2 linked regions of the Homo sapiens genome follow. The protein of the gene in region 1 interacts with the protein of each later gene in a pairwise test. Each region holds a gene or a part of one and is shown on either strand. Other genes may lie near its edges.

Evidence for each region.
Region 2: the proteins of ZNF148 (region 1) and JADE1 interact in binary tests that used the Homo sapiens proteins (3 or more experiments, as listed by UniProt).

The regions. Positions count from the first base shown.
Region 1 is NC_000003.12:125,361,469-125,377,572, reverse strand, and holds the start of ZNF148 (zinc finger protein 148), read left to right. Parts: upstream 1-2,247; 5' UTR 2,248-2,471; intron 2,472-2,863; exon of another isoform or gene 2,864-3,346; intron 3,347-16,104. UniProt on the Homo sapiens protein: Involved in transcriptional regulation. Represses the transcription of a number of genes including gastrin, stromelysin and enolase. Binds to the G-rich box in the enhancer region of these genes.
Region 2 is NC_000004.12:128,864,889-128,880,992, forward strand, and holds the end of JADE1 (protein Jade-1), read left to right. Parts: intron 1-2,967; coding exon 2,968-3,085; intron 3,086-6,466; coding exon 6,467-7,374; 3' UTR 7,375-10,336; downstream 10,337-16,104.

The sequences.
Region 1 (16,104 bases):
AATACTTCTGCAAGGACATCTCCCCAGCAAATGCCTGTCCAACCTCGGACTGGCGTCACCCTTGTTATTGATCTTTGTAGTCAAGGATAATTATTTCAAAACAATTATGTAATCCTTTCCATTTTTTCCTTTAAACACCTTTGTCTTCCTTTACATCCCTGAATATGCGGTTAACTGTGATGTGTATATTTTCATTGCAATGCTCTATTCCCAAATAAACATTATTTTCTTTTAGAAAGCCTCTCTGTTATTTAGGTTGACACTGATTTTGATGTCTTACTAGAGCTTTGTAAGATGTCACCATTGGGGAAAGCATGGGACTCTGGACTATTTTTGCAACTTCTTGTGAGTCTATAATTATTTCAAAATAAAAAGTTAAAAAAAAAAAAAAGGAAAAGTAAGTAGGCTGAGTACCTACGGGTGGTGTTTAGGGAAGTGAGCAAGAGGAGCATGGAGAGCCAACCTGAAGCTGAGAAGTTTTTCCAGTTTAACTTATAAAGGACCTAAGCTTGCTCCTCACCATCGCTTTTGCTGTTACTATCCCTGTAGTGCTCTTCGTTCTGCCCATTTTAGACAGCTGTTTCTCTATCGCTTGTTAGGCTGCTGAGCAGAGAACTAGATCTATTCCTAATAGCAAACCAATCAATCCTAGCCCATTGGATGTAACCTCCAGGCCTTGAGCCCTTTTCAGTTATTAGTTTTCCCACTGCCTAATACTGAGAGTCGGCTTTCTTGCTGCCAGAGGTGTTTTTCATTATGACGTCTGAATTTGATGCCACTGCGGGTGCTAGAAGTTGCCAGAAGGCTGTCCTCCAGATAACTGTCCCTTGGCTCTAACTTGTGTCATTGTTTTGTTGCAATTAACATTCAGAATATGTGCGGTCATCTTATTAAAATTTATATTTTTTAATGGAGAAAGCACACAGAGAGAGTTGATTGTGGAGCTGTGGTTTACTCTTGCTCTTAGTTACCTGTGTCTAAATTAAGCTGAACCTCTGGGCCTTAGCTATTTCTAAACAGGCATCACGATTTACTAAGGTTAATGCCTGAGGGAACATTAACCTTGCAGACACTAATCTAATTCAGTGTCATCACAAGTGCATAATGCAGGAGTTTGGAATTTTGCCAAAAAGCACTATTCAAATGAACATTTAGTTGGCAAGGGGTGGGAAGGCGGGTGTGGAAAAGGGAAGGAGAACACCAGAAATGGCTCTATAGATATTTTCATGCCTTTTCTTTTCCCTCTCCCCTCAAAGGTTACGTTTAAGTATTGCAGAGAGGCGCTAAATGGAATCTTCATATTATTATGAAGAAATCCCAATGAACGCGTTTTATCCCACGGCAAGTTCCAGATGCTCACAATTACTCAACATTCACTGAGCATCTTTTATGTTATATGGCTGACCTTGTGCTAGGGTGTGTACACAAAGATGAGTAATTGTAAACGATGGCAGTATGCAGAAGCACCTCAGGGCGCCTAATGTTAGCTGACGAAGGCACCATTAAGGAGGTCACAGTTTGGCTAAAGGGCCCCCAAAGGATGAGACAACTGTGTAATCCTAGCTCTATAGAGATCATTACCAAGTCTTTGCCATACAAAGTTTGGGCTTCAGGTGAAATGAGAAGGGCAAGGTTCTGCCCAAGAGGGTCCAGGGCCGGATCTCTTGATCTGTGTCTATGCCCACACCCTGCATCTCAGCTTGCAGACACTAATAGGGTTTGCCAGTTTCAAGGGCGCAGGGCTACATCTTCCGGAAAAGGTGGCATTTGAAGGTGGTAAGAGGCCAACGACTGGAGGTGGCGGCGAAGGGCTAGGTAAGACAGAATAAATGAAAAAGCCAAGACATTTCTGGCAAATAACCTTTCACCTAGGTCCCCGACCCTTCCATTTCCCCAGGCCTGAAACGCTCCCGAATCCCCGAGTCCTCCACTTTCCAAGCGCTGGGCATTGGTTAAGGCTGTAGGAGCAGGGAGTCCCCCGCTCTAAGAGAGTTCCTCAGTTCCGATCTTTTTCAAACCGCTTTCCTCCCAGGCCCAGCCTGGGGGGCCTGCGGCTCGGGTCCAGCTTCCACGGCCACCCTGGGCTGGTGACACGCAGGCGCCGGAATCGAAGCCACGCTGTGTCTTTCCAGCCAGGTCTCTGCGCCAGACGAGGGCGGGCGCCGCGGAGCGCTTCCCGTGTGCGGGGCTTCCCACAATGCACCGGGCCGGCAGTGGCGGCGACCGCGGCGGCGCTCTAGCTGCGGCATGTCTGCGTCTCTACTGCTCTGGGAGGAGGAAGAGAAGGAGGAAGAGGAGGAGGAGGAGGAGGGGGAGGAAGAGGAGAAAGGCGCAGGGGTGGGAGCTGTTGCCGAAGCTGCCACAGCAAAAGTTCTCCCCCCTCCCCCCTTCCCCTCCTCTCAAGGCCCCTAGAAAGGTTGGAGCTGCCGCCGCCTGCAGTCGGTGACCGCGCGACTCGGCGCCCGCCCGCGGTAAAGCGCTCGGCCTGGCAGGCCCGGGCCCGGGGGAGGGCGGGGGAGGGGGAGGGGGCGGCGCGCGGGGGGAGCGCGCGGCGGTAACGGCCTGACCCCGGGGGGAGCGAGCCGTGGCGAGGCTGGGGGTGGCCAGGGGGCCAGCCGAGGCCGAGGGAAACGCTGGGGCTGGCTGGGGGACGTGAGGAAGCAGGGCGCGGAGGGTGGGTTGGGGGGTTGAGGAGGGATAATGACGGGGGTGGCGGAGGCGAGAAGGCGGCCTCCGAGGCTGGAGGCGGGTGTCAGAGGTAGGGGAGGAGGTGGGATGTTTGCACGGGGAGGCCGGAGGGTGCTGGGTGTGGGTGTGAAAAGGCTAGGGAGACACCAGGGCTCTGTCCACCGTGCCTGGTGCAGTGCTTTATGCACCGCAGGCCTCAGTCACTGTTGCTGCCGGAGTGTGCTCTTTGGGAGAAGGGAAGGGCAGGGGTTGGAGAAAAGGGAATGCTTGCAGGAAACGTAGTGGGAGTGCGAACAGGGCGAGGGGCCGGAGGAAAGATGCCGGAGAGGTGGAGGAATGCGGGGAGGTGGCTGTGGAGGAGTCTTGAGGATTCTGGGGGGTGTTCATTGTGCAGATACGTTAGGTATTTCATTATGGAAAGAACTGAAGCGTTTCTCAGGGAAGGAAAGAAGGGAGATAGGAGTTCCCGTGAATAGAAAGGATCGCGTTTGAAGCAAGAGGGAGTGCTAAATAGTAGAGAAGATGCAGGGAATGCATAATAGAATAGACAGATGTAGTATAATTAATAAATATTGGCCTAAGTACTGAAGAGTTATTCCAGATGGGCCGGGATGGCCTAGTTCCGAACCTGTGTGGGCTGTTCAGTAGATGACATCTGGTAAGTGTGGGTCTGGGCCGTGGTTGGGGTCACTGAGAATTAGATTTTAGTCTGTAGTTTGGTCTGTGACATTTTAGACGTGCACCAATGAGTATGAGAACCTCTGAAGCAGACCTTGAGAAAGGGTCTGGCCTGTGGGGATTCCTTAGGCTATGGAGCTTCGATTTTAGAAAATTTGAAGTATTAACACTTACCCGAGGTTGGGTAAATACTATCCTGGCAAACGCTGGAATGGAAATTAATTGACTTGGTGGTTTTCTTCACTGCCCAGTTTATCTGGTCCAGGAGAATTGGTGCCGTATTATTCAGCCTGGATTGCAGTACACAAGATTATAATTAATGGTCGGGGGGAAGACATGCTTGCTGGCTCTTCTTTAGATACTTCATTTGTAGCTCAAATTAGTTGGCTGGATTGGTTCCATAAATCTGTGGCTGGTGGGAGATCTTCTGCCATTCACAGTTCCTGAAGTGAACTGTGAGGGAGTTCTCCAGTGAGAGAATACTCTCATTCAGGCATGATGGCATTGAAGAAAACGTATCAGCCAGCAAAGTGTGGGCCTGCAGAATGGAGGAGCTAGAATATCTGTTTTGGTTTTAGGTTGCAAGGAGGTCAGGACTAGTTATCAGAAGGTCTAGGGGAACCTAGGAGACTGGACGACTCTAGAGCCAGGTTGGAGGGAGGATTAGCATCTCTATGTCAGGAAATGAACCAAGCTCTCTCTGGATTTGCTGAGCTCACACCAGACCAGATTTCCAAGAGGGAACTCTGGGCTAGAACCATACTCTTAAAAACTACCCGGATATTATTCACCTTTTATTAAGAAAAAACTATATACAGCTGGGCGCGGTGGCTCACACCTGTAATCCCAGCACTTTGGGAGGCCGAGGCGAGCGGATCACCTGAGGTCAGGAGTTTAAGATCAGCCTCGCCAACATGGTGAAACCCCATCACTATGTGAAACCCCACCATGCCAGGCTGGTGTCGAACTCCTGGCCTCAAGTGATCCGCCCGCCTTGGCCTCTCAAAGTGCTGGGATTACAGGTGTGAACCACCATGCCTGGCCAGGTCTTTTTTAAACATAGTATGCTGTACTCAATTTTATTGTCATCATGGCATGAGAAGGCTAGTCTTCCTTCCCTTTTCCCTCACCAGCACTGTATATTATCTGTTCTTTTAATTTTTGTAAGCAGAATGCACTTAAATATGTCATTATTGTCTTTCTACCCTTTTTAAAAAAATTTTTATTTATTTATTTTTTTGAGACGGAGTTTCACTCTTGTTGCCCAGACTGGAGTGCAATGGCGTGATCTCGGCCCACTGCAACCTCCACCTCCCGGGTTCAAGCAATTCTCCTGCCTCAACCTCCCAAGTAGCTGGGACTAAAGGTGCCTGCCGCCACCCCTGGCTAATTTTGTATTTTTAGTAGAGATGGAGTTTCTCCGTGTTGGTGAGGCTGGTCTCGAACTCCTGACCTCAAGTGATCCACCCGCCTTGGCCTCCAAAGTGCTGGGATTACAGGCGTGAGCCACTGTGCTCGGCCTCTACTCTTTTATTATAAAATTGTTCTGAGGGAACTTACAATGAAAAACAGCAGCCCCTGTCTCACCTGCCTATTGCAGTTCCACTTTACTGAGGCTGCTACTTTTAAGCATTAATTTTGTATTTCTTACCATGCTTTTTTCCATGTCTCCAAGTAATGGGCATATAATATTATTTCTTGATTTATCAAAATGACATTATCGGAGTCAGAAGATGTTTATGAATGTGTCATTGACATTATCCCCTTTCTCCTCCTTTCTGACCTTTGATATTTATTTTAGTTATTTTATTCAGTGTGTTTATATTTTTAAATAATATGCTTAAACCTTGATTTTAGAATCCAACAATCTTAGGCTGTATCTCTTGATTTCCCCATTGTATTTTAGGGATTTAGCCTAGGTATGGCTTTCCTGAAGTAGAAAGAACATTGACAATTAGACTAAAAATGCTGGATGAGATGATAAAGAGAAGTTTGGATGGACCTATCAGAAAGACCATGTTGTAGGAACCATCTTTGCAGTGTAAGATTTGCTTGTTAGAGATGAAGAGGAGTTGCTTGACAATGATAGTTGTTCATCTTGGAATTAGTTACCAGATTGCAGTATTTTTTTTTTTTTTTTTTTGAGACGGAGTCTCGCTCTGTCACCCAGGCTAGAGTGCAGTGGTGTGATCTCGGCTCACTGCAAGCTCTGCCTCCCAGGTTCACGCCATTCTCCTGCCTCAGCCTCCCGAGTAGCTGGGACTACAGGCTCCCACCACCACGCCCGGCTAATTTTCTGTATTTTTAGTAGAGACGGGGTTTCACCGTGTTAGCCAGGATGATCTCGATCTCCTGACCTCGTGATCTACCCGCCTCCGTCTCCCAAAATGCTGGGATTACAGTCATGAGTCTCCGCGCCCGGCCTGATTGCAGTATTCTTTGACAGTCTTCTGGAGAGTTTTAGTGTGGGAAATCTGGAAATGCATTAAAATGACCCTTGAATGTTTTTTCTAGGGTTCTGTGGCAATTCTTTTTTTTTTTTTTTTTTGGGACGGAGTCTAGCTTTGTCGCTCAGGCTGAAGTGCAGTGGCACGATCTCGGCTCACTGCAACCTCTGCCTCCTGGGTTCAAGCAATTCTCCTGCCTCAGCCTCCTGAGTAGCTGAGATTACAGGTGCCCGCTACCACACCTGGCTAATTTTTTTGTGTTTTTAGTAGAGACAGGGTTTCACTGTAGATGGTCTCGATCTCCTGACCTCATGATCTGTCCGCTTCGGCTTCCCAAAATGCTGGGATTACAGGCGTGAGCCACTTCGCCCTGCCCCCCCCCCCCCCTTTTTTTTTTTTTTTTGAAACAGGGTCTCACTTTGTCACCCAGGCTGAAGTGCAGTGCGCATGTTCCCAGCTCACTGCAGCCTCCACCTCCTGGGCTCAAGCAATCCTCTCACCTCAGCCCCACAAGTAGCCGGGAATACAGGCATGAGCCACCACTCCCAGCTAACTTTTTTTGTATTTTTTATAGAGACGGGGTTTCGTCATGTTGCCCAGGCTGGTCTTGCACTCTTGGGCTCAAGTGGTCTGCTTGCCTCAGCCTCCCAAAGTGCTAGGATTACAGGCGTGAGCCACCGTGCCCGGCCACAATTCTTATGTTTTTATTTTTAGGAGGTAATGGATTGGCATATACATGTGTTTTTTGGGGGGATGTAGTAGGGAGAGATGGGAAATGTGGTAAGAGGAGGATGAGGATGAGGAACAGGGTTTGATGGAGGTGGTGATACATTTTGAGGAGGCTGAAGAAAAGGTAAAGAATTTTGAGGGGGATTTGGATATAGTTAATGTGAAGGAGGTTTACCTTATGGTGATGAGACTAAAATTTTTGTCATTTTTAAGGAAATTAGCATGTTTAAGTCACTAATATGTTGGGAATGTGGTAGGAAAAAACTATACTGGGCCCAATCTCCTCTGTTAGGTTAGAGTCATAAAATATTAATGTTTTTGAAATTTGTGTATGAGGTGCAAATCACTATGGTGGATGTTGGGAGATTAGAAAGATAATTACTCCACTTCTTTTTGGGAGTCTAAGTAATGGCAACTCTTGAGAGTCTTCCTTACTTTCAGTAGTAACAGTATTCACATGTAGTTTATGTATTGCTAAATTTTGTATTTGTGACAATTATTCTCTTTGTTTTGCAAATGGTACATTGTAACCTGTTCTAGAGCAGAGACTTCCTGTAGTCTCTAGGGAAACTAACAGCAGGTTGATTCTTAAGTGCTTAATAAATACCTGTTGAATGACTGATAGAAAGTAGTGTTCACTGTTAGTGATAATAGTGGGATTGTATGAAATTGCTGAGTACTTTGGGGGTATTGTAGGCAAAACTGTGTGTGTGTGTGTTTGACAGCGTGAAGGACAAAAGGGATATCTGGAGAGGACCTTTAGATTTAAGGGAAGAAGACAGACTGGATTAGAATGGAATTGCAGTGGTTCTGTAACAACTTGGAAGAGGTGGGACCAAGGGGTCTCTTCTAAATTTGAAGCTAGTTTAATCTGGAGTAAAATCTGGTCTGTAGCAGGGTGCTGGTTTAATTTAGATTTTTTTTTTTTACCTCAGGCATAAATGACTGTTTTAGGACTGTCTGATTTAATTCTTTTTTAGGATAGTAAAAATAACAGATAAGCTTCTTCTCTCAAGGAATTTGTAGTATTTACAATTTTTTTTTTTTTGAGACGGGGTCTTGCTCTGTTGCCCAGGCTGGGGAGCAGTGGTGCGATCTCAGCTCACTGCTGGGTTCAAACTCCGCCTCCTGGGTTCAAACAATTCTCCTGCCTCAGCCTCCCAAGTAGCTGGGATTACAGGAGCGTGCCACCATGCTCAGCTAATTTTTGTATTTTTAGTAGAGGTGGGGTTTCACCATTCTGGCCAGGCTGGTCTTGAACTCCTGACCTCAGGTGATCCTCCCACCTTGGCATCCCAAAGTAGTATTTACATTCTTTTGAGAGAGAAAGACAGTTGTGAAATAATTCAGTAATGGTATAAGATTTCAGAAAGTTGATTTTTAAAAACAAATATCAAAATTATATCTCCAGATAAGAACTTTTATATTTCGGTGGTCATTTTCAGTAGCAGTGTTCAGAATGTTTTTAGAACACCTTTTCTGAATTAACTTCTGAGTACAATTCTATAGAATTTACCTATTTATTGAGTATCTAGTGTGTGCTGTTGGGGGAAGGGGTCTATAAAGGTGAGCGAAACATGGTCCCTGTTTGCTAGGAGTTCATAATCCCTTCAAGAGGCACACTTTTTTTTTTTTTTTTTTTTTTTGAGGTTGCAGTATTCTTTGTCTTCTGGAGAGTTTTAGTGTGGGAAATCTGGAAATGTATTAAAATGACCCTAGAATGTTCTTTCTAGGCTTCTATGGCTTTTTTTTTTTTTTTTTTTTTTTTTGAGGCAGGATCTCACTCTGTCACTCAGGCTGGAGTCCGGTGGTGTGATCTTGGCTCACTGCAACCTCCGCCTCCTGAGTTCAACTGATTCTCGTGCCTCAGCCTACCAAGTAGCTGGGACTAGAGGCACACACCAGCACACCCAGCTAATTTTTGTATTTTAAGTAGAGACACGGTTTCACCATGTTGGCCAGGCTGGTCTCGAACTCCTGGCCTCAGGTGATCTGCCTGCCTTAGCCTCTCAAAGTGCTGGGATTACAGGTGTGAGCCACTGCGCCGAGCCCAAGAGGCACACTTTTGTTTGTTTGTTTGTTTTTTGAGATGGAGCCTCTCTCTGTCACCCAGGCTGGAGTGCAGTGGCGCCATCTTGGCTCACTGCAACCTCTGCCTCCCAGGTTCAAGCGATTCTCCTGCCTCAGTCTCAGAGTGGCTGGGACTACAGGCGTGCACCACCACTTCTGGCAATTTTTTGTATTTTTTAGTAGAGATGGGGTTTCGCCGTGTTGGCCAGGCTGGTGTCGAACTCCTGGCCTCAAGTGATCCACTCACCTTGGCCTCCCAAAGTGCTGTGATTTCAGGCATGAGTCATCACACCCGGCCAAGAGGCACACTTTTAAATAATACATGGTATAATCTTATTCTGAATGGTCTTATTGATGACAGATCTTTTTACTTTGAAATTTTGATTTTTAGAAATGCTGAAGGTTAGTCAATATCAAATAGAGTGAATGAAAAATAGTTTTGCCTTAAATCCAGTTAATCACAGAAACGGGAATAATTTTCTTGGTTGACTTATTAGCTGATTTTGAAAACACTCCCAAGGAGGAAGTTGGAAATATTTTGAACAGGGGTGATAGCTTCACATGTAGTTAGTTAGGCACTACATAAATGTTGGTTGAGTGCATCAGATGGTTGGATGGATGGAGTGAATAAATGAGTAAGTGGTAGCCTTCCAAAGTAACTTATTTTAAAGAGGACCATACTGATTTGAATGTGTAAATAAATTTTTTAAAAACTCATTTTTCTCAGATGAAATAAATTCTGAGTATGTTTGTTAATAATTTTATTACCTTGAGCAAGATAGTTTAAGTTCACAAATGAGTTTTACAGACAGTAAGTGCTGTAGGAGTTCAGGGAATGGAGAAATGAACATTGGCTAAGGTTTGGTGAAATGATTTAAGTGAACCATACTTATATTTGAAAAGATTCCTTAGGGATCTCAGAGAGGAACTAAATGACTCCAAATTCCTCTTGCAGCCCTAAAGTGAACCTAGAGTCTGGATCTATTTTTGTCTGAATGCTTTCTGCCTGTTTCATTTTAGCTACTCCTACTGGTTTGTTCCTTTCAGATTCACATTTGTTGGTAGATGTTGAGCCCCCTGAAACAACTATGGGGTCTGTTTTCCGTCTTCGTATAGTGTAACTTTTAGTTGTTCTTTTATGAGCCTGTACCCCACAAATTACTTGGCCTTCATGAGAGAAGAGCATGAGTCAACTTGGCCCTGTTATCCTGGCATTTTCCTGCATGCTTTTCTCAAAGCTGCTTTCTGAATTACGGAATAGAATAGACAGAACTGAGGGCATGTGTCCAGTAGACACGAGCTTGTTGAATGAATGAATGAATGAATGAATGAGATATTTGAGATAATTTAGGAGATCTGAATTGTCTATATGTTTTATGTTTCTTTTTCATTTATTCATAACCTGCCTTTTTCTACAAAGGACTTAACAGGGCTGCCAAACTATATGCACTAGCAATGAATTGAAATAATTCAATAAATCTGGTTAAAGAGATGATGAAGAAAAGAAAAATCTGTTTAAAGAATATAGATCAATGTGTATCGGTGTTAGAGAACTAGGAATAAGGTAGAAGATAAGCAGATGGGGAAGGAAAGGTGGTATCTGATAGAAAGCATGATTCTGAAGGAGGGAAAAGATTACTGAAATATGACAGGCTATCTTTGGAGGAAAGCATGAGAAGATGGAGGGTAAAGAGGATTATTTGAGACGGCTGTTTTGAGGAGGAAGATGGTAAGGCTATTTGAAGGATAAGAGTCAACAGAAGTTTGGAATATAGTAGAAGTTATTAAATTATGTTGATTTATAACAAGGTTTCAGAAAATGATGGGATGAGCTTTATTTAACAGATAATGCACATTTGTTATATGCAAAAGCATATAATGCTTTGCTGTCAGGAATAAAACCTTTGGGATTTATATTGTGGTAGGGCAGCTGGACTTGTGCACAAATACCTGTACTATAATCACAAATATATCTGTGAGTCACAAATATACCAAATATTACTGAATTTAAAAGGCAGAAAATGCATTTGATTAGGAGAAAACCTGAGACAGAACTTTAAAGGCATAAAAGTGGAATTTTAGCTAGTCTTTGAAGGGATTGATAAGATTTTTTTTTTTAAGTTTTGGATTGATAGGATTTTGATTGGCAAAGATTACTGAAAGAGAGCATTCCTGCCTGAGAGATTAGCGTAAGCAAAGGCTTGGAGGTGAGAAGCCCAGGAGATGTGGGGAATGGTGAGTTAGGTTTTAATTTTTAAACTATGACCTATAGTAAGAAATACATGTCACACTTCTATCTAATATATGCATGTATGAATGTTTGTGTGTGGGTAAAACAAGAAGTTTCATAATACAGTAACTGTCCTTAACAGTGGCAGGTGCAGTTGGATGTTATCTATTTTGTTTGACTAAAAAGAAAAAAAGCTGGCCAAGGGGGAAGAAAAAAAAGCTGATTGTCACTCATTAAACTGATTTCATGACCGACAAAATAATTAATCACAATCTATAGTTTGGAACGCAGAGAGTTCATGAATAAGGTATAATACAAGGTAGGAGAGTCAGTTGGGGTTGGGTTGAAAATGGATGGCCTTGAAAGCTAAGCTAAGTAGTTTGTATTTGATATGATGTAGTGTTGTGCTTGGTAAGCAAACAGAAGCTGGGTTTTAGTCTTGGCTCTTCTGTTTACCCACTGTATGATTATGGAGAATTATTTCCTTTCTGAGTTTCCATTTTCTCATAAAATTGATAATCATACTTTCCTGGCAAGGGTTATGGTGAGGATGTGAGAATTAAAGTATGTTAACATATGATTAAAGTATGTTAGCAGAAATCATTAGTGTATAGCTGTTGAACTTTTCTGAGTAGAGAATTGAGCCAAGGACCGTATATTAGATAGCTGGCAATAGCTATACCTTACTGGGTAGATTGCGGGTAATGTGGTGGTAGAGTAAGATTGTATGTGAAAAGACCAGTTAGAAAACAAAAAGACCAGTTAGGTGGCTACTGGAGATATTAAGAAGGGCTTGAATTAGTTTGATAGCAGTAGGATTAGAATATGGAAGTGGAATGCAGTTGGAGGTAGGGAAGAGGGGAAGATGACTAGAAATATGCTATTTATTTATTTATTATTGAATGAACGAACGTGAGGCTCTTGATCTGTTGCCCAGGCTGGAATGCAGTTGTGTGAACGCAGCAGCTCACTGCAGCCTCTACCTCGTGGATTCAAGTGATCCTCTTGCCTCAGCCTTCCGAGTACCTGGGACCACAGGCATGTACCACCACGCCTGGCTAATTTTCAATTTTTTTTGTAGAGATGTGGTCTCACCATGTTGCCTGGGCTGATCTCAAACTCTTGGGCTCCAGTGATCCCCTCCCTCAGCTTCCCAAAGTGTTGGGATTACAGGTGTGAGCCACCATGCCTGGCTGACTGGAAATTTAGAGTTGTAGAAATATTCAAATGGCAGCAGCTGAAATTGGATTATATTTTTGGGTAGTTTAGTGCAGTACATTAGAGTATAATTTTAGTTTCTTTCATGTAGTAGGTGCTCAATTATTTGTTGAATGATAGAAACTAAATACGTGGACTGTGGGATGAATTGTGAGTAGAAGCAGTGATGGGTGGATGTGAGAAGGAGGGTTAGACTGGAGGATACTTTGATGGACTGCCAGAATTTATTCGTTCAGGGTATATTTTTATATTTACTGTATGCAATGGACTGCCAGAATTTATTCATTCAGGGTATATTTTTATATTTACCATGTGCAAGGTTCTATGGTAGGGAGTGTGAAGGATACATGTTTATATATGACACAGTCCGTGTTCTTCAGGAATTTATCCAGGGACAAAACATACACATCCATCTATGACACAAGTACTGTGGCAGGTTTGTTCAAGGTTGGCTTTGTGGAGAAATTGGTGCGAAGCTTAGACCTTGAAGGATAAATAAGATAATAGGCAAGAAGGTGAGGGTTGGCTTTCCTAGAAGAAGGAGTGATATGAGTGACAGTGAGCAAAGTTCAGGACATGTTTAGGGGTTGGTGGTCTAGATTAGCTATAATTTAGGGTTCATGTTGAGGAATGGAGGGAAATAAAGCTGGGAAGTAGGCAGACTATCTCAAAAATTCAGGCTAACTTGGATTTTGAAAATGTATTTATTGAGATAAATACAGTAAAGTGCTCCAATCTTAAGGGCACTTAGGTATAAATTTATGTAGCCACCACCCAGTTCAATATACAGGACATTTCCGACTTCCAGAAGGATGCCTCATGTGCCATTTCCAAGCTGATATCTCATCCAACCAAAAATAACTATTATTCTGACTTTTGTCATAACAGAGTAGTGTTGTGTGTTTTTGAATTTTGTATAAGTGGAACCCAATTTCTGTGTCTAGTTCCTTTTTCTCAAGGAGCATGTCTGTGAGTTTTATCCATGTTATGTTTGGCTGTTTATTCTTTTTTCATTGCTGTGTGGTATTCTATCATATGAATATACCACAGTGTATTTATCTATTCCATGATTATTGGATGGTTTCAAGTTTTTTGAAGTCTGAGGTGTTCTGTTTGTTTTTTTCAGGCAGAGTCTCACTCACCCAGGCTGGAGTGGTGCGATGTCTGCTCACTGCAACCTCCGCCTTCTGGGTTCAAGCTATTCTCCTACCTTAGCCGCCCTAGTAGCCAGGATTACAGGCATGTGACACCACGCCCAGCTAATTTTTGCATTTTTAGTAGAGACAGGGTTTTGCCATATTGGCCAGGCTTTTCTCAAACTCCTCACCTCAAGTGATCTGCCCACCTCGGTCTCCCAGAGTGCTGGGATTACAGGCATGAGCCACCATACCTGGCTGAAGTCTGAGGAGTTTTAACTTAAGTCAGTATGCAGTGGAGAACCAGTGTTGATTTTTGAACGGGTAAATAAGAGACTATTTAAGAATACTAATCTGGTGACCTTTCTCTTTTTGTAATGAAGAGAACCTGGTGACTGGGAGACAAAGTTAGGAAAAAGTGTGAAGTAGGCTGGACACAGTGGCTTATGCCTGTAATCTCAGCATTTTGGGAGGCTGAGGCAGGCAGATTGCTTGAGCTCAGGAGTTTGAGACCAGCCTAGGCAACATGGCGAAACCTTGTCTCTGCAAAGATAAAAAAATTAGCGGGGCATGGTGGCACATGCCTGTAGTTCCAGGTGCACGGGAGGCTGAGGCAGGAGAATGACTTGAACCCAGAAGGCAGAGGTTGCAGTGAGCTGAAATCTACACTCCAGCCTGGGTGACAGAGGGAGACCCTGTCTCAAAAAAAAAAAAAAAAAGTGTGAAGTATTGAGGGTATAAGTTGGGTAGTCATAGTGGGAATAAAAGGAGAGGGATAGCTATAAGAAATACCTCAAAGAAAGAATGGGAAGGTTTGATGGCAGATAGGCTTTTGGGAAACAGTAGAGAAAAAGAAAACTGAAGAAAAGCTCTAGGGCTTTTAATCTGGGTGACTGAGATTGATGGTGCCATTAGTAGAAATTATTAGATCACTTAGCAGAACTGTTTTGGGGTTTTAAGACACATTGACCTGTGTGTGAGGCATCAGTACTGGATTGGAGCTAAGAAAAGAAGTCCAATATAGAGTTGGGAATACATACATAGAGTTGATAATTATATAGCTACTAATTTTGGATTTAGTTAGGGCACTGACGGTTATGAAATTATTTGGACTGATAATTGAAGTGTTAATTGAAGTAATAGTTGAAGAATCTAGTTAAAAAGAAATCATTATGCATTCCAATTCTAGTTAAAAAGAAATCATTATATATTCTAATTCCTCAGGAGTAAATTGGATTGTAGGAGAGGGTGATGGTTTAAAGATTATTTTGGGTAGCTGGGGGAAGACAGCCATATGAAGAATGAAAATGTAGAAACAGTGGTGAGGGATGAGACCCTCAGTGGCTGAGAATTATAGGAGGCTCCAGGTCAGACCTTGGGAAAATATCCACAATTTGGGCTAGGAAGAGCAGCAGTGATTTCAGATAGAAGAAACAACCAGAGAGGTCAGAGTAGAATCATTACAGTGACATAAAGCAAGGTGGGTAGCTTAAGTGTCATTGCCAAAAAGAGGGTAAGGACTGGCCAAGCATGGTAGCTCATACCTGTTATTTCAGCAGTTCGGGAGGCTGAGGTGGGCATATTGCTTGAGCTCAGGAGTTCGAGACCATGCTGGGCAACATGATGAAACCTCATCTCTACCAAAGATAACAAACTTTGCTGGGTGTGGTGGCGCGCACTTGTAGTCCCAGCTACTTGGGGGGCTGAGGTGGGAGGATCACTTGAGCTTGGGAGGCGGAGGTTGCAGTGAGCTGGTATTGAACCACTGCACTCCAGCCTGGGTGACAGAGTAAGAGCCCGTCTCAAAAAAAAAACAAAAACAAAAACAAAAAAAGGGTAAGGACTTTGGTGGGGGATCATATGATTTGGAACATAGATTTTTTAGTTTTTGTTTTTTTTTGTGGTCTTCAAGAGAGCAGTTCAGAGACCAGGGTGCATGGTGGTTTACTGAGTGGGTTGGAAGAATATGGAAGCAATAAATACAGGAATTGATTAAAGAAGTTTAGTTTGAGAAGGAAGAACAACAACTCTTATTCTAAAACTGGAGGCAAGAAGTAACAGATGGATGAAGTTACAGCATTTTAGAAGCTGTGAAGAGGATTTGATTACAGGTGGAGAAGGTGTGATTTGAGGGAATTTTATAGAAGGGTTCGAGTATTTGTTGGAATTAGGGATTTAAATATGAAAATGATTTGGATTAGTCAATGAGACGGAGAGTTGTATTTAGAATAAATCTGTTGTGGAAGATTTCATAGCTTTCTGGTGGTGCTTAACACCCAGTGCGTGGGCATGGAGAAAACAGATGGTGAGGATTGTCTATCACTGGGGAGATGCATAGTGAGAATAATGGAAGGTCATGATATTCTGGAGAGGACAGTGTTAAAATGGCTGTTGGACAGGTTTAAATTATATAGGGAGACAATAAAGCCAAGTGGAGGTAAAGAGCAGGTCTACAACTAGAACATAAAGTAGTTGTGGATAAAGAAAAGGGGGGTGGTCTCTGAAGTTACAATCCTAGTGGATTGTAACTATTTTTTTTTTTTTGAGACAGGGTCTCGCTCTGTCACCCAGGCTGCAGTACAGTGGCATAATCTTGGCTCACTGCAGCCTCTGCCTCCCAGGTTCAAGTGATTCTCCTGCCTCAACCACCCAAGTAGCTGGGATTAAGGCATGAGCCGCCATGTCCGGCTAATTTTCTGTATTTTTAAAGGAGACAGGGTTTCACCATGTTGGCCAGGGCTGGTGTCGAACTCCTGACCTCAAGTGATCCACCTGCTTTGGCCTCCTAAAGTGTTGGGATTACAGACGTGAGCCACCACACCCGGCCTAGCACTTTTCAGTTGATGGCTCTGTTTTGTTTCTTTGTGGCTAGCTGAAGTGCAGATGAAGGTCTTAGGAGTTTTTGAAG
Region 2 (16,104 bases), on another chromosome or scaffold:
TTCAGGAGGGCTTGGGAGCACACAACTTTAAGAAGACACAGTTGCTGATGTGGTGGGTAGCCATGTCATTCCCAAGGCTGCCACTTCACTCTCATTCCTTTCCCCTAAAAGATGCAGTAAATGTGAGTTCAGCAAATGAGTATTTATTCAGATAAAGACGTGCTACCACTGCACTCTGGCTAGCGTTATGGAAAGTGGCCAAGTCCTGGGGGCAGTCCTGTAGTCACTCAGTGGAATGGTCACCTTTGAAAATCTGGTAGTGGCTACAGTGTCCCCTGAACAAAAGGCACGTTCAACTTTAGTGCTGCAAACAGTTTTGGATTCAAGAAAACACTGAAACCACTTTTAGATGTCTTAGAGCAGTGTATCTCAGGGTGTTGTCCCTGACCCAGAAACTTAGGAATGCAGATTCATGGGCCCCACCTCCAAAGGGTGGTTCTGTTTTGTGGGTACCCCATGTTTCTGTTTGGGAACACTGCTTTAGGGGAAAGGGATGATCAGGTTTAAGGTGGTGTGAGAGTGCACCTGGAGATGGTTTAAATGTTTTTTAAGATACCTCCTTGCAGGCAGTTGGGAGAAGATAAAGCAGGGGAGGGAGCTTGGTGGAACGGGTGCAGGAAGAAGGGACAAGCTGGATGTGTTTTGAGGATGGGAGAGCATCAGTCCAGCTCTGCAGGTGGAGGTTGCTGAGCGTTGTCCTATAGGGAACTTTATGCATAAGGGAAGTCAGGTTTAGAGTCCTCACTACTATAAAGTGGAGTTGGTCAGGGCTGATTTGTTCCGATTGAAAACCATGCCCTTTGCTTTTTGGGTTTACATTTAGATATTTCCCATCAGAGATCATGAGGAATAGCAGTGGGATTTTTCTATTTAGCAGCCATGGTGTGGTCAAAGCTACCAAAATTAAATTTGAATAATATACAAAGTTCAAATTCCCTGGCTTCCCCGTTTTCCATTTTTAAGGATAATTTCAAGTAAGAGAGATGTAAGTATTTCTATTACATGTCTGATTTGAATATGAGAGCAACCTGTCTGCTCCTAAGATGTCAGGATTTGTTTCCATTTTTTATTTCCAGGAGTCAGATTCCTTGTTAATGTAAAAATGGTTCTGTTTCCTAGAAGTTTTGAATCTGCTATGGATCTAGGTCTGGCCCCTCGTTCTTGAGCTTCACTCTTAATTTCCCCTGGGTGGAACAATATCGAAGAGAGGAGGATGTTAGCCACTTCCATTCCCAAGTTGGTGAGAATTTCTATAAAGGACACCTGCTTCTTGGATTGAGGGTGTGCAGCTGTCAGAGAAGGGAAGAAACTACCTTAACTAGGCTGATTGACATCCATGTAATATTTACTATGAGACAGGGAGAGTGTTTTTATTCTCAATTCTTTAAATTTAAAATAAGACAGGAAATGTTAGTGACATAAGGGATTGTTAGAGAAAAAAAGATGGGAAGATCCGTAAAGTGAATTTGTTAGGGGCAGGAGAAGCCTGACTTGGCATTTTCCTGTTTAGGCCAGGAGATATTACCATAATGCAAATGTGAAAGCCTGTGTTCTGTCTCTCTTAATGCTTCATGTCCTCTTGCAAATGAGACTGCCTTCAGCACAGCTGGAATTATTAGGGTTTAGTCTACACTTACGCTCTACACCAGAGTGCAAAATCTTTTGTGTCTTCACAAGGCTTGTTGATGCTTGTTGCTGTCCTCACTGCCAAAAGAAAAGGTTGGTGACCTTTGGACTTTTTCCACTTAAAGTAGGGTGATACTACTTTATTGAGTTTATGGGGAAAAAATTATAAAGGTGTCAGGGGAAGAGTTTGCTCATAATGGGATATTTTTAGGAAAGTGAAGGCATGCCTGTAGGAGCTAATGGGAAAGATGTGGTCAGATAAAGATGCTACCACTCCTGCCACTGAGATTACTTAGGAGGTCTTGTCCACATATTCCTGAAGAAGGGTTTAATTGTGTATTTGGTGTGCTGTGTCTGACATCTGTGTTTGCAGGTCCGTGTAATCTAATCAGGTTGACCAATAGAAGATTTTAGGACTGAAGGATTAGGGGAGTTTAGAGACTAATTCTTTAAGTTTTGTGTATTGAGTGATGACAGGTGGGGAACAAATCTAAATGTTGATTACTGAGCATAGGTTAGGGTTATGTGATCCAAAGCAGTCACACATCAGATAGGAAGTAGAGCCAACTCTTAGCACTGGGTCTTTTCAGTTACAAGCGAATCGGGAGAGGGCAATACCAGTTTTTCAAGTGATGATGCAGAGAACTGGACTGGAGATGTCTAACCAGCAAATCATTGGCAAAGCTGGAAATTTCCTAGGCATTCGCACACCTCATAGCAACACATAAGCTACCTGCTAACTCCAGGCCTTTCAGTGAGTTCAGTGTGCAGTTGACAAAGACATTTACTAGGATTCTTGGTAACCATTTGGTCTTCCAGTGGGCCTGGTGCAGGGGGCTCCACTTTGATGACCCTTGGCCCCATGTTTACCCAGTTCAGCCTCAGAAGATAGTTGATAAAGTGCAGAAGTGGCTTCTGAACTGCTTTAAAGCCATTGGCCATCCAAGTAATAGAAGATATTGATGCAATAATTAGCAAAGTCGACTGGCAAGAGGTTGCAAGTTTTGACTTGGACACCAATGGCCTCTGTGCCGGGATGGGTTAGGTGTGATGGAGGAGGCAGGACTTTTGTAGGAGTTCTCTAGGTGTCCCTCCCACTCCTGTGGGTCCCTAACCCTCTTCGATGTTGCTTCTGCCTATGTTGAGGGCTATATGTGGAATCCTTCTTATCTGCCCAAAAGGAGATCAGAGATTGGATAAAATGTTTAAAGTACCTATTGATTTCAAGTATCTGTCAAGGCCCTAGTAGGAGTAATTTCTCTTAGGTAAAGAAATTTAAAAAGCACCAAAGTACTGTTATACTGTATTGCTTACTTAGAATCTTTATTCTCTACATTCTAGGTTCGGAACCTCACTTACATGGTGACCCGCAGGGAAAAGATTAAACGGTCTGTGTGCAAAGTCCAGGAACAGATATTCAATCTTTACACTAAGCTTTTGGAGCAAGAAAGAGTTTCAGGTATGCATTAAGCCCTGGTAGGTCAAAGTATAGGGCAGGGGTTTGTAAGCTTTAACACTGTTGAGGAAGAAATAATCATTTCTTAATTTTCTTATAGAAGAATTTAAGAAGCATAGACGTTCATATTTAAAGGAAGTCTTTAATTTGAGGCATCATGTTTAAGGGAAAAAGCTATGAATTTGCCCTCTATAAATATGGGTGGAATCCTGTGTTCTCTGCTTACTGAGCAAACACATGAAAGTCTTTTGAGTCTCCCTAATTTCTTCATGTGCAAAATGGAGATATCGCAAGCTACCTCTTGGAATTGAGAGACTAAAATGAAACAGTGACTTATATATTACACAGTACTTGGTAAACACATCATGGGGATACCTAACAGGTTTATATTCAGCCTTGGGCTCTATCTGTAACATGGTAAATATGGTCAATATATGTTAAGACTGTACTTAAGACACAGTCCATTTTTAGATAATGTTCACAGTAGATTTTTTTTGTGTAGATGGATTGTTGACTATTTCTGAGATTGAGCACCAAATATTTATTTAGTGTCTTCTATTTTATATTGCCCTGGGCTAGGCAAACAGAAAAAGAAAACTAGGGTATATACTTCCTCTACTCTGGACAACACATCAGTTACTTGGGAGATCAAGGGCAAAGATCAAGTTGGGCAGGTTGTTTAACCTCTCTGAGATTCCGTTGATCTTAAAGTTTGTTTTAGAATCAAGACCCCTTAAGTGCATTTGAGCCCTATATTCTGTGATCATAAGCCCCCAAAAGTAGGTAGTATAAGGATTTCAGAGAAGCAGAGCTGCTGAGTGTGGATCAGGCAGAATTAGGGACCCATGGAACAGGTAGGTCTTAGACTGGACTTCATTGGAAGATAGTCAGCCTCTCTCCTGCCTTGGACTGCCCTTTAAAGTTCTAGCTGCACCATTCTTGGTGCTTGCGTTGTGCAATCATAGTTGATTCACTCTTGTTTTTGTGCATTTGTGGCTTTTTGTCACTCCATCTAGATTATTATGGTGCACAGAGAACAAAGAAGTTGTTATAACCTGTTGTGTTGAAATCCAAATTCTGGTTTATCTAACCAATTATGTGCGACTAGAGGGAGCTCGGTCATCTGAAGAAATAAAAAAAGGTTTAGGGAGGTTTAAATAATGTTCTTGAAGTGTTACATAGTTTGAATGCAATAACTTGTTGATATCCTAGATATTTTCTTCCCAAGATTAAGTATTTTCCAGGTGAATCAAGTGTATATCATTAGCTGGAACTTGCAGTTTAATTGTTAAGATTTTAAAAATAAATTTTCTAAGTAGGGTGTCATATGTAAAAGTAGGTCGATTCAGATTCCCTAAGGTGAGCTCTCTCTTCATGATTCCTACCTGAATACAAATAAATGAGATCTGTTTAACTGCCTTGGAAGACTGTCTGGTGCAGATCACCGAGCCTACAGCAGCAAATGCTGAGCTGGGATCACTAATACAAGTTGTGCCTGTGGAGTTGTGCCATTGGAGGGCTTTCTGCAACTCTTAGGTCATTATGTAATGAGTGATTCCCTGTAAAAATAAGCCGTAAAGAGCATTTTCATCTGGTTTCATTTGAGTTATTTCTCATGGATATTGCAGGCAGGTTTTTGCATTTCATGGCTGAGGTTTTTACTGGGTGAGCGAATGATATTCTTAATAAGTCTGGGAGTTATTTTGTGGTAACAGAGCTGTAATGTAGATCTGCATTCAGAAGTCCTACTATTTCAGAAAAGGAAAACAAATCTTCCTTTCATTCTGATGTAAGAACCATAGGTATGATCAGTTGAAAACATTTATCTTCCTGTAGGATTCTGTTGAGTAATGCAGTTGAAACCCTTTAGGGTGCTTTTTTTCTTTTTCCAGTCCTAGGCTTCAGTCGTGTTCTTATTCATGCCTAAAGGCTGTCTCCTGCCTGAAGTAGAGCAGATGGTCATGATTTATATGTCATTTAGGGTCCATGGTTTAAACTCTGTGATTCTGAGAGTGGGTAGGGTCATTTGCTGAGAGTGTCCTCAGTGGCAACAGTGCTTATGGGGGGTGGGAGGGTCATGAGTTGGAGGCTCTTTAGAGACATGGATTACAGTCAAGGAGATAGAAATCAGAGTTCAGAAAATGTTAGCCTCTTCTTACCATTCTCTTTTCCTGTGGCAGGTGATTGAGTAAAAGAAATATATGCAGTGTGATGTGAAGGTTGATTCTAATGATTGATTCTTGAGAAAGCAGCATTTCCAAACCAGCAGGTTGTAAAACACCTCCTGTGGTCATGACAGCTCTGTGTTCTGAGTCGCTAGCTATGTTTCATTTGCTTGCAGTGTCTGTGTCTGGTGAGCACTAGGTTCTCATATGGCCTCCTGTCTCATAACCTGGGGGCTGAACCTTGTTTTCTTGGTGGCTCATATCTTATGGGAGACAGAAAACATGAGAACTGCTCTTTCTAGATGATCTTGAGGCTGTTGTAGAATCATGGTCTTTATGACAAACACTAATGTGTTATGAATTCACCTGCTAGGGGTAACAACTCATTAGTGGGTTGTGAGATGAATTCAGTGGGTCATGACCAGTATTAAAAACAAGTAAAGTATAATAGGAAATGTCAGAGTACATTATCAAATGATGAGGGTTAATATTATTTCGTGAAATGTGAACTCTTACTAGGTCATGCTGTGGAATTTAGTCACTGTGATTTGCATCAAAAAATACGAAAAACATCAATTTAACTTACTTCAAGTTGAATGACAATTCAGTTGAATCCCACAAATGTATTTTGCACATAATAATAATGAACATTTTTGGAACGCTTACTATGTGTCAAGAATTATTTCACACATTTCCTTTATTCATTCACATGTTTACATGTACTTGTCCTCGTAATAGCCCTGTGAGGGTACAGACACATAGAGAAACTTACAAGCCCCGAGCCCTGCTTTTTGGGTCCTCTCAGTCTCGTACGGGAGGCAGAAGACTGGACCGTGGAGGAGCGCGGCGCAGGTGCTGCTCTGTAACCAGGTAGAGGGAGCAGAGGCAGCCATCAGCCACCTGATGAGTTCTGCATGGAGTCCGCTCTGAAAATCAGATCAGTTATTTTGTTTGGAGGAGGTCTAGTTTTATGAAAAATTATGTGAGCTTCAGCTGTTTTAGAAAATGTGGCATATTGAGTCTGCAGATTGAATGGAGATTCTCAAGGCAGGTCATCTCTTCACTATAAAAACCAAATTTGTACAAACTTGGTGGTGTAAGTGTTGTGTTGTTGGGTGGGGAGTTCACATCAATTGGGCCACACTAAGGGTGTAGAATTTTATTCTTTTGGATTTGCTTCTGCTGTAATTTTTCTTTATTTGTGGTTTTATGTTTATAGGTGTGCCTTCTTCCTGCTCCTCCTCCTCACTGGAAAACATGCTTTTGTTTAACAGTCCTTCTGTTGGCCCTGATGCTCCCAAGATAGAGGACTTGAAGTGGCATTCTGCATTCTTCAGAAAACAAATGGGTACTTCCTTGGTTCATTCGCTGAAAAAGCCCCATAAGCGAGATCCTTTGCAGAATAGCCCTGGAAGTGAAGGCAAAACCCTGCTGAAGCAGCCAGACCTGTGTGGTAGAAGGGAGGGGATGGTGGTCCCAGAGAGCTTTTTGGGTTTAGAAAAGACCTTTGCAGAAGCACGTCTCATATCAGCACAACAGAAAAATGGTGTGGTGATGCCAGACCATGGGAAAAGAAGAGACAATCGTTTTCATTGTGATCTCATTAAAGGAGACTTAAAGGACAAATCTTTTAAACAGAGTCACAAGCCTCTCAGGTCCACAGATGTGTCCCAGAGGCATCTGGACAACACAAGAGCTGCCACCTCCCCTGGAGTGGGGCAGTCAGCACCTGGCACAAGGAAGGAGATAGTGCCCAAGTGCAATGGCTCCCTAATCAAAGTAAACTATAATCAGACTGCAGTCAAAGTGCCTACAACACCTGCCAGCCCAGTGAAAAACTGGGGAGGATTCCGGATTCCAAAGAAGGGGGAACGGCAGCAGCAGGGAGAGGCCCACGATGGGGCCTGCCACCAGCACTCAGACTACCCATATTTGGGCTTAGGCCGAGTTCCAGCCAAGGAAAGGGCAAAAAGCAAATTAAAATCCGACAATGAGAATGACGGGTATGTCCCCGATGTGGAAATGAGTGACTCAGAGAGTGAGGCATCAGAAAAGAAATGTATACACACCAGCAGCACTATCAGCAGAAGGACAGACATTATCAGGAGAAGCATCTTGGCTTCTTGATGCAACAGAGATGATGCGGAAGCCCTTTGGGCTCGTCATTGGGTTTGCTAGAGGAGAGCTCTGATGTGGGGGAGAAGCAGAAACCCATTAATCCTGAGCTACACAAACACATTTACTTGCAATTCAGATTAATTTTTTTCCAGAGTCATTTTTAAATCATTTTTGTGAGAAGTTTGTGTTATTTGCAACTTGTTGAGGAAACAGAAGAGTAGATTGTAACCATAAGACACTGCTAAGACTAGAACCCGAACTGAACACTAAAATAAAAATGAAATGTTTTAAAGAAGGCAAGGCTTAAATAAGCCTCATGAATTTTTATAGCCCTCTGCATTCTTCCCAAAGCACAAACTCATGGTTACCTGAATATAGGGAACCAGATATGGTTCTTGAGAAACCCTCATGGTACCATTCACAGCCCATAAAGTTTATTTTCTAGGACTGTGGTAGATCTTGAAATCATATTTATATTTGGCCCTCAAGGCTATTTTTGTTGCATTATAGCATATAGGCAGCAGCTCTGAAGCTTCAGTAACACTAAGAAATTTATGTGTAAATATAGCAGTCAGGGAAGAGAATTTTAAAAAAGGTCATTATTGAAGAAGCTGAGGGGACAGGGTAGAGCTGCTGCAATATGGAGATTTAGGGTAATATGGCAAGGTCCTGCTGCTTGAAGCCTGTGAGTGGGTTGTGGATATGGGACTGGTGGAGAGTGAGACTGTTAGGAAAGTTGTATCTATGAATAAGGGCAGTTGAAGTAGAATTTTTACCAGTCCACTTGACCTTCTTCTTCCCTAACCACTGGCTCTTGAGCCAGCTTGGGATTTCCCTGGCCATTGCCAATACCTGGCCATCTGGCTTCCAATAGTACAGTGGCTACTCAAGTTCAAGCGAAGAACTTCCAGACTCTGGTGACTGTTACTTCCCAGAGCCAACCACTAGTGCATATGTTAGGGAATCTGGGCTTCCAACATGAATGGATTCCTTAAGAAAAAGGAAAAAAAAAAAAAAAAGAAAAAAAGAAAAAAAAAAGAAAAAAGAAAAAAAGAGAAAAAAGCGAAATAGGTTATATTTTAAAAACAATAGAAAGGCAATAAGTTGCGATAAGCTCTTACTATTGACCAAGGTTATACAGGAAAGAGACTGAAGTGTACCCTTGAATAGGTTTTCTGTAGTCAGAGTTCTAAACTCTAATTTGTAACTTGGACTTTCTAATTGCAAATGGCAATAACTATTAAGTTATCAGCAATAATAAATTTAGCATTAAATTTGAGTACAATGTTTTGTTTTTGCACTCCCCATAGTGCGTATGTATTAAGACAGTGGATAGTGTTTAGGTCCTGTTAATTTTCTTTGGAATTCAATGTGGTTGTGAATCAAACTTAAGGAAGGAACGTTTAAATAGCAATGAGATACAGAATTATGGGCCTTTGGAACAAGCCCGACTTCCCCTAAATTCTCCTTAGTTTGTTAATACCAGTATTCAGATTCCTGATTCATTTATACATCTGTTTCCATATGGCAGGGACATTATGATACTTAATGAATAATGCTTTGAGGAGTTCTGCAGTTAACTTTCAAGTCTTCCAGATGATTGTCAACAACAAAAAAGGCTTATTGAATCCCATCTTGCTATGCAAGTTTTATCAGATGATCAAATAGTAGATCTGATACATCCCCATTGTATGTACGACATTTTCAAACCAAGTCTTAACTTTTCAAGGACATTTTAGTAGCTAATTCAGGGGAGGGGGAAGAATGATGCAGGTTTTTAGATTGACTGACTATTTTTGAGTTATGGGGCTCATTTTGAAAGACTGCTGTCCAGATCAGCTTGTTGCTGCAGATAATAGAAGGTTCTTATGAATCCAAGTTGTATATTCACTTGTAGGATAATTTAAAAATTAGATTTTTTTTGCATATGAGCAAAAACCTTTTGCTGGATACAGGAGAAGGTTGGACTTTATCTACAGTTATCTTTTGATTACAGCAACAGCTCTGGGTGAGAGTAGAATTTATAGAGGGATAATTTGTCAAGCCATAGAAAGAAAATCTAAATTAATCTAGTAAGTGTATGACCTCTCACCATTTTAAGAGGTATCAGATTCATTTGCACTATTAGGAATGCTAGTTTTGTGCAAAAATAATGCCTTACCTGTTTTTTCCCCACATTTAGGTTGAAAAGCTTTCAAATGTTCCAAGTTATGCTGAACCAAAAAAAACAAAACAAAAACAAAACAAAAAATATTAAAAAAAACCCACACAAAAACAAAACACACAAAAATAAAAAGCCCACACTTTTTATTCCTGCTTCGAAATGCAAATGGATAGAGCACGGTTTCTCTGACAGTATAATGATAGCTTTGTGAGTTAGTTTCATGTCATGCTGGGAACTCTCTATGAGGTGGCCATAAGCAGCAACCAGCCCAAACACCCACTTGCGTTCTATTAGTATGGAACCATTTGCATTTGTTTTTTTTAAGCTTTATCTTTCCTTGTGCATCCTGACCAAGAAATATCTTTGATTATGATTAATGTATTATGTCAAAATGTAGGCTAGTTAAACTTTTGTAAAGTTGCCTGGAATGTCATTTGTTAGGTTATAAACACAAGATCTAAATGAAGGGTTTTATGTGTTGTGTACAAATCTTATTTTGAAATGGACAAACTTGTCATTACATTTGTAACCTTGTACAGAGGATTTTTCACTATGTGCCTAGCTTGGTGTCCATTCAGCTAAAATTGAAAAAAAAAAAAAGGTGCATGAAGAGTTAAAAATCAAATTAAAGTATATGTAGAGATGACTATTTTATATTACATGACCCAATCCTGTATTTATTTCTACCCCCTTTTTGAAAGTATTTATAAAACTAGTTGAGGACAGCTGTATTTTTTTGTTGAACTATTTAGTAGAATTGTGCCTTTTTGTCTGTATGTGAATAAATGCTGTACATTTTGCAATACATTTTAAGTGTCTTTTGAAATCTGCTTTTGCTAAATATTTAAAGGTATATATGACTTAGCAGTCCTGAATCAGTTGTTTACTGTCTTCCACTTTAAATCAGGAATGAGAACTGTAGAGAACATATCAAATTTGTGCAGAGCACAGATTCACTGGGCTGCTTTCTGGCTCAACTCTGATGGCGAGACTGAAAAATAACGGTTTGAGTTTAGTCTTCCCCACCTGGAGTTCTTTCCAGAATACAGTTTTGGATCTGAAAACAGAATCGTTGAAACAACGTAGACTTCAGGGTCAGAGAGAACTGTATTTAAAGGCTAAACTATAGTTTACCAGGCACATGACATTGGCCAAGTCACTTAACCGTTTTAAGCCTCAGTTTTCCCAGAAAGAGGATAACATCTTAGTAACTTAGATATTGAAGTAGTTGTGATTATTTAAAGCAAGTCCATTGAGCACCTTACAGAGAGCATATATTAGGCATTTAGTAAGTGGTAGGCTATTATTTTTATTAGGAACAAGACACTGATGTTTACAATATTTTAACTAATGAGCTTTCTGAGGTGAAAAAATATTCCTGAATGATGGGACGGTTGTATTTTTAATACAACCTTTAAATAATTTTTAAAAATAATTTTTCAAAGAGCAGTTTCATTAAATGCTTTCTTTTGATCACAGAACTCTGGGACAGTAGGGCAAAAAAATATTATCTGCATTATACACCTTAAGACTTGGCCAAGATCACAGCAGTAGGTACTGGCAGAACTGGGCCTACACTCTCATTCTCATTTCTGAAAAGATTGTTTCCTGCCTGAAACAATCTTTTGTACATCCACTACATGCAGAAATTAGCATATAGTGAAATGCACCTTTTTCTTTATGTTGGGAACAGCAAAACTGGTGTGAATTATGCATTCTCATGTAGATTATAATGATTAGGATCCAAAACAGGGTAGCTATCTTAATCTAATTTATAATTTTTGTAAGGATTTGGCCAGTTTAAAAGAAAAAACAATTATTCGTACATTTTGCTAAAAGCTTCTCATTTCTCCTTAGTGACTATTTACTTCCATATTGCTTGCTCTGAGTAAGACCCCTGAGAGAAACAACTGATTCTTCCTACAAGGTCTTAAAGTTGAATAACCACAATAGTTCCCTAGGGAAATTAAGTCCCCAGGAGCCAAAGGAAGGGCCTATCATTGGCAGCTGTGCAATCTGTGATGGGAAATGTCACACCAGGGACTCACGTTCATGTTTTCACCCAAATCACTGAAAAAACAGTTTCTACCTTTGAAGCATTAGCCATCTGCAACAAACTTCACAATTAACTTCAAGGTTGAAATCTTCAATATGATTTCCCTTTAATGCTCAGAACTCCATTAGATGATGTGTTCTAGTCTGAGGTAGGCTTTGATTGTCTGGTCATTGAAAAAGAGGATAAAGGCAAATCCAATGGTATCTACTTCCTTCACTTCAACTGTTCCCTGTACTACTTACTCAGTTTGGTATTTCTGCAATCCAGCTTTTCTGGAGTGTGAAGAGATTGCTTATTGGGCATCCCCTCTTGGATGTATACAGGTACTTGAGATTTTGGAACTCTTTCTATATCCTGTTTTAGAGAATGTCCTCCTAGACTGAAACCTGGGAGTCCTTTATGAATTCTTCAACTCTCACAGCCAAATAGTGATCAAGGCCTGTGTATTACATTTAATATTGCCTTAATATTTTTTGCTTCGATCCCACCACCATTTGCTATATAATTCAGGTCTCTTCATTTTTTGCCTGGATTACTGGTTTCCTTAACACAAGTCTTGCTGAAATTAATCTCTCCAGCATTTGGCTGAAGCCTTGCCAATGGTATCTCCATAGTGATGACTTCTGAAATAAAAGCTGATTTTGTCATTCCACATAGCCTTTGGGGGAACCTCCTGACTTCTGTAGATAATTACAAAGGTTTATCAAGTGGCAGGCACTGGTATGTATTATGTTAATTAGTTTAATCCTTATAACGTGAAGTAGGCACTATTATCTCCAATTTACAGATGAGGAAACTGAGGCACAGAGAAATTAAGTAATTTGCTCAAGGTCAGTAGGGGTAGATCTGGGATTCAATCCCAGCCTGTCTGGGATTGAGACCCGTAGGCTGTACTGCCTCTCAGAATATAAAAATAGTTCACACATGGCCGGGTGCAGTGGCTCACGCCTGTAATCCCAGCACTTTGGGAGGTGGAGGTGGGCAGATCACGAGGTCAGTAGTTCGAGACCAGCCTGACCAATATAGTGAAACCCTGTATCTACTAAAACTACAAAAAATTAGCCAGGCGTGGTGGCACACGCCTGTAATCCTAGCTACTCAGGAGGCTGAGGCAAGAGAACTGCTTGAACCTGGGAAGTGGAGGTTGCAGTGAGCTGAGATTGTGCCACTGCCCTCCAGCCTGGGTGACAGAGTGAGACTCGGTCTCAAAAAAAAAAAAAGTTCACACAAAGTAGTTAGCATATTTAGGACTACACGTGTAAACTTCAGTTAAATGAATTGGTAAATTTATTGGTAAAGCCAATAAACTTGGTTAAAACATGTTAATGCACTGGTTAAAAGACTTTGAGTATAACCTAATAGATAATGAGCAGGATAGTCTGCTTACAGTCAATTAGTTCCAGCCTTATTCTAGGGAGAATGGAATTAATTGTCACATGCATATTTATGTAACACACATACATACAAACATATTTACAGATCAAATATATGTATATGTAATCAAAGAAAACAACACTGCTATCAAAGAATAAAAAGAATAACTGAACTCTACATCCTAACTGCTTGGAAAGTTAGTTACAGAAATACTTAAAATCACATAGTTTCTTGATGTTGAGAACTAATATCTTAACACTAAATTAAAGCTACGTAAAACCTCCAAGTCGGCATTTTTGTGATATGAAGTATAATAAATCCAGTTATTTTTACAAATGAATAAGCAATGCAGAATTAAGTAGCAAAGATAAAAATAATGTGTATTGTCATTCCTAATGTATCGCCAATGTGTCCTGATATTCTCACTACTACTTGGCTTATATATGGCCGAGTTTTACAAATTACATTTATAATTATGGGTTAATGTGATTATTTTACTCACTAATCTGGGGTGATTGATAGTTCTAACTTCAGGATTATGACCAGTGTAAAACAATTTCTTTATGAAGCAAATCTTTTTCTTTGGTGTTTCCCTTCCCATGCAACAGTTTCAAAGAGAGCTTTTCTCCTTTTTCCCACCAACTTTGGCTCTAATTCAGTTCCATCCTTGGAGCTTCTCTTTTTTATATCAAAAGCTTGTGATGGTATCTTTGCCTCAACTAGTCTCAAGTACTCTAAGTAAATACCTTTCAAACTCCATACTTTAAAATATCACACTCTGAAAGGAAATTATGCATTATATCACTTTACAATAACTAAACACAATTTAACATTTTTTTGGTCGATTAAAATTGGTGAAATTGTCATCACTCATTGAAGAAATCTGGAAACTTTCAAAAGAGGTATTAAGCTAATTATTATAACTTCCTTTGCTTAGATCTATTTTTTTCTACTACTTTACTTACATTTAGCTTGTGGCCAATTTCTTTTCTAGGTCTGGAAAATTTACCAAATCCCACTAGATACGAAGATACTTTGTTCTAGCAAGTTTTTAGGGCTATATACATAATCTGAAAACCAAAAGAGCTTTTCGGGTAGTGCCAGTCAGAAAGGGAATTAAAACAAAAAGAGGCTCACTCGGGAGGGGGGAGGGATAGCATCAGGAGATATAACTAATGTAAATGACGAGTTAATGGGTGCAGCACACCAACACGGCACATGTATACATATGTGACAAACCTGCACATTGTGCACATGTACCCTAGAACTTAAAGTATTAAAAAAAAAAAAGCTCACAGCTCAGACTTGTTTTAAGGTTGATGAATGAAAAAGTGGAAGTAGAATTTTTTGAAACCTATTTGGCATCTATATGTTCAATCAAGAACGCTGATCCTTGAACTGCAAGGACAGAGTGGACACTGGTAAGATGATGAGGGTCACTTGAAGTCTAGAATGTGTGAAGCATTTACATGAGAGCATCTAGATGTTTACAGTGAGTTCAAGCCTCCTGACCCAGATGAATTACATCCCATGACACTTGGAGAACCTATAAAGGTTACTTTTGAATCACTGTCAGCAAATGGGAGAGGTGTCAAAATTATAAATTCCTCAAACTCTAAAGATACAATGTTGCACAATAGTACAATTCTGGTGTTGACCAGATCTGGTCCAGCTGTGCCACCTGCCAGCTATGTGACCCCGAGCAAATGATTTAACTTTTACTATACCTCATATCTTTGGAAAGGAAATAACACCTACCTAGAAGGGCTGTCGAACTATATGAGGTAATAAATGCAAAATGTTAGCATGATGCACAGCACATGACAGATGCTCCACAAACAGACATTATTAATACACATAAGCATGTTACCATAATCCAGAGAAACTCTCCACTGGATTGTTTTAGTTATTTGAAGAAATATGCTTATAACTTCTCTTATTCTCTTTTATCCCATAGAGTAGTTTAAATGAAAGGAGATCTAGTCTCACTTTTAATCTTCCTAGATGTAAATATTAAAGATTTCCTTATATTTTATATTATGCTCTGATAACTTTTTCATTCACTGAAAAAAGGACTGTGCTGCCATAGAATGAAAACATTGAACGAAAACTTCCATAATGCCTTATCAAAGGAATTAAAGAGTTTTAACAAACATAAAAGGAACATGCTGTGATTACTAGGATGCCACATGGATTTACTAAGAAGGCTAACTTACTTTTCATTTTGGACAGGATTACTAGATTACATCTGGAAAATATGACTAGTATGGCATAAATGAATTTTTGCTTGGCAGAAGGCTGGATTTTTCTTGATGTTGTTATGCTAGTGTACAAGTAGCAGTATGGGCCAGATTAAAAACGGGTTGAATTACCACATCTGACATGTGCTGATCAGTTTTATCCATTAAGGGAGTTGGTGCTTGGTATGCTCTAAGACTGTCTATATTTCAATCTGTCTGGTCCTCTTCTTTTTTTCAATGGTTCGAATGAAAATATGGGTAGCATGTTTATCTGATGTGTGGCTAGCATTCATTGTAAATCAAAAATTGCCTGTGGTGCAATAAATATGGCAGTAAATAAAGACAGACATGGCCCCTATCATACCTTTAGAGCTATCAAATGAGGTAACAGAATTAGGAGCTAAAATGACCTCAGCAGGTTATAATAATGTAATTAAATTTAATAGGGATAAATAACTAGTCCTGCATTTGGGCAAAGATCTGGCTTAGAAACAAAACCTTTGAAAAAGACTTAGGATTTTAGTTGATAACACGCTCAATATCTGTCCAACAGTGTGATTCAACTTTCCCTCCAAAAAAGCTAACATAATTTTAAGCTGCATTAATGGAAGTGTAAACTATAGAATAGTAATTCACATTTTTTCCTCATCCTAAACCCTGAAAAATATTATATATGTACATTTCAATGAATCACTAACTACAGTGACCCTCGAAGCATGATTTCCTAAGAAAGTATGTTTCGCAATCTTCTTGGGGTGGGGAAAAGAGAAAGGGTACATAGTTTGAAGCCGTATCTATTCTCTGGAGATCTAATAAGTTGTCTGCTTACACATAGGCAAGTATCACACATGGGGGGCACCTATGAGAACGTGGGGCACATGTGAGTGTTTTGTGGTGAATTCTTG